Linked DNA regions of Homo sapiens: region 1 is linked to region 2. The links come from fine-mapping of genetic effects on gene expression. A gene starts in region 2. The other region holds a variant in brackets. All regions are shown on one strand. Distances are between the middles of the regions.

Region 1 (4,386 bases), 20 kb after region 2:
TGGAGATGGAAGGAAACAGACAGGAGAGAAAAAAAAAGATTTGGGATGAGTCGCTTTGGGAGCAGAGACTAGGGAGGGACCAATGTGTGAAAGAATGCCTGGACATCAGGCACCTCAGACCATTTGCCCATTTTTTGACAAAAAATCATCCAGGTCTTGTAAGATGGAGAAATCAAAAGTGCTGTTTTCTGGCCATTTAGAACAATTGTCGAGTTTGTACTGGGGCCTAGCAGTATTGCAGAAGAAAATAAGGCATTTAGGTTTTAGTTCAGGTGTGAGTTGAAGAGGTTTTAAGTTCTTGAGAACACAGGCTAAGGGAGAAGAAGGGGGAATGCAGGGTGGAAGGTTGACCACAGTGAAGAGGTAAGTTTAAAGAGAAAGCTAGAGACACGGAGAAGCGGGCGGTGAGCAGCCCTGGGCTGTAATATGGGTGAGCAGCCAAAGCAGGTGTCCCTGCAATTGACATGCCACCAAGGGAATGTGGGTGAATGACCAAGGCAGGTGTCCCCCCGGTGATCAGACACCAATGGAATGTGGGTGAATGATCAGGGCAGGCATCCCTGCAGTGATTAAACACCAAGGGAAGACTGTCTTCCTGAGTCCATGACCGGTGCTGCAGTTTTGGGTCCATGGATAAAATGTGTCTCCTTTGTCTCTACTAGAGAGAAAAAGGAACCCGAATTGGAAGGACAGGGAGATTGAAGGGTAGTGAGAGAGGCTGAAGAAGAGAGTGAAAAGACCGTTTACTCAATTTGAAATTGGTGAGATGTTCCTTGGGCTGTTTGATCTGAGGATCGGAGGTCATAGGTGGATCTCCTCATGGAATGAGGGCAAGGACAGGGGACCGGTCTCCTGAAGGAGTCCTCCTGTCCCGGGTCTTCAGCACCAAATATCATGCACGTCCATGTGAACCAAACAGGCTTTGTGTGAGCAATAAAGCTTTTTAATCACCTGGGTGCAGGTGGACTGAGTCTGAAAAAGGAGATGGGGTGGGCAGTTTTATAGGATTTGGGTAGGTAGTGGAAAATTACAGTTAAAGGGGGTTGTTCTCTGGCGGGCAGGGGCAGGGGTCACAAGGTGCTTGGTGGGGAGCTACGGAGACTTATTGTCCAGGAGAAGGAATGTCACAAGGTAATGTCATCCGTTAAGGCAGGAACCAGCCATTTTCACTTCTTTTGTGGTTCTCCAGTTGCATCAGGCCATCTGGATGTATACGCGCAGGCTTGGGCTCAGAGTCCTGACACATAGTAAGATATGGCCCAGACATACCAGAATTTATCATGCGTTCATTATGTAACTACAACCAGAGTTATCTCAGGAATGCTCCCTACAACCCAGGGGAAGGAGCTATGATTATCTTCATTTTAGAGAAAAGGCTCAGACACCAGTAGAGGCCCCAGCCTAAGGTCACACAGCCAGTAAGCTAAGAGCTGTGATTCACACACAGCTTCATCCATACAAAGCACTACTCTCTCTGCATTGATTTTTATCTGCAGTTGACAAGATGCATTTCCCAAACAGGAACCTCATGCACCATTTTCCATGGAAGAGAGATAGCTGCAGGGCATATCATTGTTACCATCTTCATTTTGATCCTCAAATACCAGACACGCTCCCACTTCAAGGCCTCTGCACTTGCCTTTTCCTCTGCCTGGAATTCCCTCCCTCCTGACTCTCCCAGACCTTGCTTCTTCTCAGCCTCTCAGCCCAGATGGCCCTCTCTGGTGGGGCTTTCTCCATCATACTGGCTAAACTTGCCTCCAACCCCACATATTACCCTGTCTTATTTTCTTCATAGCATTCATCAAGATTTCAATGCAACTGATATATTTAGTAGAAGTGCCCTGGAATCAGAAACTTTACGAATTTTGCTCATTTCTGATTATCTAATACCTAATACAGGATGAGCACATAGTAGGTGCTCAAGAAATAATTCCTGAATGAACACATGAATGAAACTCAGAGAGGGTGAGGGGGTTCACTGGAGGAGATCTATTTAATGTTACATATGTATATCTGCGGCATTTTATAGAACCTTGTGTTGGGGGCGTTGTTTTTTACTGAGGTATGACCCACGTACAGCAAAATCTACCCTTTTCACATATAGTTCCATGAGTTTTGACAGACATATACAGTTATGTAACCACCAGCAAAATCATGACATAGAACATTGCCAATATCCCAAAAAGCTCCCCTGTGTCCTTTAACAATCAATCCCCACCCCCTCCCCGGACCCAGGCCCTGGCAATCACAGATTCTGACATTTTTAGAGAGTCATACAAATAGACTCCTACAGTATGGAACCATTGGAGTTGCATATTTTTCACTCATGATCCATCTGAGGTTCATCTGTGTGTTTGCACACATCAATGGTTCTTTCCTTTTTATTGCTCAATGGAGTCCACTGCATGGATGGACTGCAGTTTCTCCATTCACCAATTGATGTCCATTTTATATAAATAATGCAGGAGAGAAGCAGGCTTGAGCAGATCTCCTCGGCCACGGAGGCTGCTCATCCA[C/T]GGATCTGCACCTGTTATTTGTCTGAATCACCCCCTCTCCCCCAGCCCCTGCCTGTGAAAATTTCTTTCTTTTCCTTCAAGACCCTTTGCAAATGCCCTCTCCCCAGCAAGGAGCAGGGTGTGCTGACCCATGACCCAGATCTGTAAAGTGGGGCTCAGAGAAACACAGTAGTCTCCAAGGGCCCACAATGAAAGTGTGGCAGAGCCAGAACTCAAACCCAGGGCCAAGGGGATGGGGCAGTAGACCAGGGACCAAAACTCAGTCTCTTTGCCAGCTGGAAGGGTGACAAAAGGTCAGGCCTTTGTACCCCATCATAGGCCTGAGAATTCGGCAGCCTGAGAGTGATGGAGAAGGGGCAGGTCTAATCCTGGAGTCGGTGCACGGCATAGAGAGAAGTAGATCCAAAAAAACAAGAGAAGTAGATCCCACGCTGGGTGAGTTCCTCCACTGGGATCCATTCCCTGCCCTTCCAGCTGGTGCCTCAGCCATGGGCCAGACCTAGCTCCCACCACCCAGGCCAATATTAGTCTCCAGAGCCCAGCCCAGCCTAACTGAGCCCATCTGGCCCAGATTATCCATCCCAGGGCCTGTGCTGGTGGGCGGGTGTGGCAAACTGGGTGATGGGATCCAGCTGTGGGTAACCTTTGCCCTGCCCAGCCACTTGCAACCACAGGACAAGTGGGGGACCAGTGAGGTGCTTGGGGAGCTCCAGTCACTTGAGGGGACCCTGAGCTGCCCTGAATCACCAGCTCAGCTCTGCAGCCCTCAGGCAAGGAGTCTTAGAGCCTAGCCTGCCAGATGGTGACCTTGGGCAAGACTTCTGGGCCTCAGTTTGTCTATGTTCAGGCAAATGAGAAGCTTGGGGAAGATGCCTGGGAAAGTCTCACCTCAGGCATGAATATGCTGTTTGACTACTTGGAGCAGGTGCTCAGTACCTGGATGTCTGCTTTTTAATTTAGGTTCTAGGAGGTCAATGATGCATGAAAAAGTCTGAGACCAAACTCGATACAGCTATATTTGTCCTCATCCATGCTGGTGGGCCCAGCCAGCCACACATTAGAATCTCCTGGGAGCTCACATGCAGTCCATGACTAAGATTTACCACGGACCCCCGGACCAGCCTGCTAGCCCATGCTCTGATGTTAATGACATCGAAGGCACCCCTCCCGAGGAAATCTCAACTGCACCACCCCTACTACTCCCTAATTCAGCAGGAAGCAGTTAGTGCGGTCATCAGCTGACCTCCCCAACAGCACTTGGGTTTTCCTGTTGAGAGGGGGACTGAGAGACAGGGCTAGCTGGATTTCCTAGGCCAACTTAGAATCCCTAAGCCTAGCTGGGAAGGTGACCGCATCCACCTTTAAACACGGGGCTTGCAACTTAGCTCACACCCAACCAATCAGAGAGCTCACTAAAATGCTAATTAGGCAAAAATGGGAGGTAAAGAAATAGCCAATCATCTATTGCCTGAGAGCACAGTGGGAGAGACAAGGATTGGCATATAAACCCAGGCATTCGAGCCAGCAACAGCAACCCCCTTTGGGTCCCCTCCCTTTGTATGGGAGCTCTGTTTTCACTCTATTTCATGCTATTAAATCTTGCAACTGCAAAAAAAAAAAAGAATCTCCTGGGAGCTGACAGAGGGGTTAAAGACAGGAAGGCACAAAAGGCAGACCCATGGAGAGGAGGGCAGCCTGGCCCAGAATAAGGCGAGTAAACAGATTTGAAATCCAAATTGGGATCACAGTGGGCAGTACTTACTAGTGGGTTGAGTGTGGCCGCTAAGAAAAAGAGAAGTTAAGATTGAGGTCTGGGTTTGGGGCTTCAGAACTGGGTGGAGCCATTTCCTGAGATGGGAAAGATTTC
Region 2 (4,386 bases):
GGGGCACGCAGAGCTCAGAGCATGTGGGAAGGCTCAGGGGAGGCTGGAGGCTGATAACCAGCTGCTTTTCCTTTGCCTGCAAAAGCCCCACACCTGGTATAATGTTCTCAGTCCCCAGATGAGACCACAGTTCACAGCTGCCCAGAAGCAGCCTGCCCCAATTCAAAACTCTATCGGGATTTGAGAGAACAAAAAGGAAAATACTAAACAGCCAGACTGGCCCCTACTCTGAGGAAACAAGCAGGGAGAGAGGAAAAGCCCAAACAGCTGGCAGAACATAAAGGCAGCCCATGCAGGAAAGGCCCCACCAACTCCTGGGCACCTTCTGCCTGGAGACCATGTCCCCCAGGGACAAATCCCTGCCCTAGAGGAGTTTATGCTCCAGTGGGTCGTGGGAGGGGAGGTGCAATGACAACTATAACATTGACAACGGAAAATATTTATTTAGTGCTCGCTCTGTGCCAACCTTGCTCTAACTCACCTAATTTTCATGCCATGTGAAGTAGGTGGTATTATTTTCCTCATTCAGGAGGAAATGAAGGCACAGAGAGGTTAAGTGACTTACTCAAAGTCATACAGCTGGTAGATGGTAGAGCCAGGATTTGAACCCAGAAGCTGAAAACTTCTCCATCCCCATGCTGAGGACTCACACGCATTCCTCCTGCAAGAGATAAGGTTTACCCAGTTTACAGATCAGGGTGTGGAGGCCCAGAGAGGCACAGCTGCCCACCCTAGGTCTCGTGGCCAGCTGTCGGGGAGCGAGATCTAGGGTTAGCCTCCTGGCACTCCAACCTCCTCTCCCCACTGCCTCCTCTCCACATCCCCACTCCAGCAGCCCCAGGACAATCTGCCCCAGGACATGACAACTTCTCATTACTGTTACAAGCAACCAAGCCAGGGCCATCCTGGGGCATACCACTTTCCCCTGGCCCTGAGGGAGAAGAGAGGACAGGAAGCAACTCCCAGCTGGGTTGCTCACTTGCCCCACCTTGGAAGGATTTTCTGTGTCTCCAGAGGCAAAGTGGATTCGCTGGGCCCTCCCCAGCCTCACCCCTCTGCCTCCTCCCCTCCCTCTGCTCTCTCCGGGGGTCACTTGTACTCCAAGCGCTAACATGGAACCAGAGGGAGGAAGGTGCAGCGGGGAGAGAAGGGGATGGCAGCGGGACTGAAACTTGAGATCTTAGACTTGGGGGGCAGGGGATGGGGGTGGAGGGAAAGAGGGAGACCAAGACAGAGACAGGAAGGGAGAGTTAAGTTGCATTTGGTTTTCCAAAGCGGGCAGCATTGGAGCTTGGCGTTTGTGTGTACATGAATGTGTGTGCGTGTCAGCGTGCGTGTGAGTGTGTGCTCGTGAGTGTGTGCATGAGTGTGTGCGCGTGTCTGTGTGCTGTTTTCTTCCCTCCCCTCCAGCAGGGAAGCCAGGCCTCACTGGATAATCAGAGGGCTCAGAGGTGAGGCAGACAGAGCAAGGTTGGTGCACGCTTAGGGTAAGGGCGACGTGCCACCAAGACTGAGGAAGGAGGAAGGGAAGGAGTGAAGAATAGAGGTGAGAGGGTGTCGGGTGGGGCCGGAGGGAGGCGGTGAGAGGAAGCAAGCAGAGCAGCCGTGGTATTCAGAGCAAGTATAAATAGCTGCCTGGACAGAGCTCGGCCAGACAGAGGTTTGTAGCTGCAGCTGCAGGCAAGCCTGGCCACTGTTGGCTGCAGCAGGACATCCCAGGCACAGCCCCTAGGGCTCTGAGCAGACATCCCTCGCCATTGACACATCTTCAGATGCTCTCCCAGCTAGCCATGCTGCAGGGCAGCCTCCTCCTTGTGGTTGCCACCATGTCTGTGGCTCAACAGACAAGGCAGGAGGCGGATAGGGGCTGCGAGACACTTGTAGTCCAGCACGGCCACTGTAGCTACACCTTCTTGCTGCCCAAGTCTGAGCCCTGCCCTCCGGGGCCTGAGGTCTCCAGGGACTCCAACACCCTCCAGAGAGAATCACTGGCCAACCCACTGCACCTGGGGAAGTTGCCCACCCAGCAGGTGAAACAGCTGGAGCAGGCACTGCAGAACAACACGCAGTGGCTGAAGAAGGTACGGGGCATGGGAGGTTTGCAGGGGGCAGAGGGCGGCTTTGGGGTCTGTCACAATCAGCAGGTGGAGTGTCCATCCAAGAGGCCTTCCCTGAGCACAGAGGGCTGTCTCTGAGCTGCACAAAGAGGGGCAGGGGTGGGTCTGAGGCCACACAGCAAGATTGGGCAATGTCAGCTGGCAACCTGGCTCTTTAACTGCCGTCCCTTCATTCATCCAACAGAAATCCATTCAGCCCTGACCAAGGGCTGAACGGACCAAGCCTTCCTGGGTGCTGGGGATACGACAGTATAGTATGTCTCCCTCTGGACTAGTAGGGGAAAGAGGCAGTAAGAGATAATCTACTATGTCAGATGGTGAAGCAAAATGAAGAAGAAAGAGGGCAAGTGGCGGCCCTGGGTGGCTGCTTGAGGTCAGATCATTAGAGAGTACTTCTCAGAGGAGGTGACATTTGAACCCAGAGAACAAGGGAAATGATAGAGTGGGCCAGGCAGGTATTTGAGGGAACGTTCTGCAAAGGGAGCTGCATGTATTTTGACCGTGAGGAGGGAATGCATCCGCAGCGGTGTGTGCCTGGAGAACCATGGGGCGAAGGCCTGTGTAGCTGGAGCAGAGGAGAGGGAGCAAGGGTGCGGGGAGGTCTGAGAGGTGACAGCAGGGCAGGCCATGCAGCTGGGGGGGGGGCCACTGGAAGGACTTCAGCTTTTGTTCTGAGTGTCATGGGAGCCACTGCAAGGTTGTGAGCAGAGACAGACACCCGTGATTCGATTTCAACAGCATAGACTGTAGGAGGCAGGGTGGAAGGAAGAAGCCCAAAGAGGTGGCCGCTGCAGCCATCAGGTGCAAGGTACCGGAGGCCTGGAGCAGAACGGGGCTAGGAGGGGGTGTGGCCAGTAAGATTCTGGTGGGTTCTGGAGGTAGAGCCCATCAGCTCTGCTGGTGAATTGGATGCGGAGTGGGAGGAAGCAAGGAGCTGAGGATGCCACTGTGGTTTTGGCCCAAGACCAGGGCTGCTGTAGAATGCCCTGTCATGCTTTCGTCTTTCAGCAGTGTGAGCACCTATTGTGTACCCTCGGAGAAGCACTGACTACAGAGGTGTGCAAAGCAGGCTTGGCCCTGGCGGGGCATGAGGGTACAGGAGACATCCTGGGGGGTCTGAGATGGGACTCTTCAGAGTCCCTAAGTGAGAGCTACCAAGGAAAGGGAGAGGGACCCAGGAGACAGTCTGGGCGATGACTGAGGAATGAAGGATGCGAACTAATTCCTGGAGTTTTAGAAGGTATTAAACAGCAGACAAGCTTGACAACCACCTCTGGCTCCAGGCAGGATAGCTGTCCTGGCTGCCCCCCTGGCTCCCTGCTAACACTCGGCCCCCACCTCCTGTTCTCCATGCAGCAGACCAAAGAATCCCCATCAAAACCTAAGTTACATCCTCTCCCTCCTCCCAGGGCTAACCATGCATCCGAATAAAAGCAAGAACCCTTACTCCCTGGAGTTCCCTCTCCCAGACTCCCACTTTGCTTACCCCAGCCTCCTATCCTCTCCAGCGCCATCTCCCCAGAGGCCCTCCTTGTCCTCCCCGTACGAAATAACCACCTTCCTCTTCCACCCTTTGTCCCTCTGCTGGCTTTGTTGTGTTTTTTTTTCTTAGAACTTATCCCTACCTAATGTTCTTAAAAACATTTCTTTTGGTGTGTGAGCTCCCAGAGGGCAGGCGCCATGTCTCTTTTGCTCACTTCTGGGTTCCCAGGGCCTAGAATAGTGCCGAACACACAGTAGGTACTCAATAAATGTCTGTAGCATGAGTGAATGCATGAATGCATAAATGTCCTTCCAATCTCTCAGGTCCCAGGTCTCCATCCTGCTCCGTGATGACACAAAATTGGCATTGATGGGATCCTGAGCCCAAAACCCATGACCTGGATCTCCCCCAACACCTCCCTGAGGGTCCATGGGTGTCTCAACTCCAAAGCTGCCTGAGACGACTCCCTGCTCTTCTCCAAACACCCTCCTCCTGCCTGTCTGTCTCTGTTTAGGGTGACACCACCACCCAGCCACAGGCTGTGCCCTGGGGGCTTCCTGTGGCTCCCACCTATCCCCCAGGCAGCTGGCCCAGCCCATCCTGTGGCCTAGGCTTCTCTCATGGTCCATCTTTCTGGCTTAGGCCTCGTCATCTTTCCCAGGATGCTGTCATCACCTCCCACTGGGCCTCCTACCCCAAGTCTCACCTCTCACTCTCATCCATCTTTGAATCCCCTGGGTGTCGGATGCTTGGGAAACATTGGCTGAGAGCTGATGGCTTGAACTG

Alleles and levels. Positions count from the first base shown, and alleles are read on the strand shown. Sizes are in standard deviations (SD) of each study's normalised expression.
As copies of T replace C in region 1, the expression in subcutaneous fat of the gene that starts at base 1,653 in region 2 goes down (small effect, 0.22 SD a copy in GTEx).

The links. PIP is the estimated chance that this variant, and not a neighbour inherited with it, causes the effect.
Region 1: its variant is the best candidate, but not a certain one, in a credible set for the expression of ANGPT4 in subcutaneous fat (GTEx, PIP 0.59).

Annotation. Positions count from the first base shown.
Region 1 is chr20:893,734-898,119 of GRCh38, reverse strand. The region is part of intron 1 of ANGPT4 (angiopoietin 4); the gene reads left to right. Among named protein-coding and RNA genes, the nearest start is that of ANGPT4, 20 kb to the left of the region's middle. The variant C/T (reference allele first, on the strand shown) is at 2,520.
Region 2 is chr20:913,601-917,986 of GRCh38, reverse strand. ANGPT4 (angiopoietin 4) reads left to right here and starts at 1,653. Exons shown (of 9, transcript NM_015985.4): 1 at 1,653-2,081. The coding sequence starts at 1,773. It overlaps LOC105372492 (a long non-coding RNA gene), which reads right to left. Exons shown (of 3, transcript XR_937185.3): 1 at 4,307-4,386; 2 at 566-661.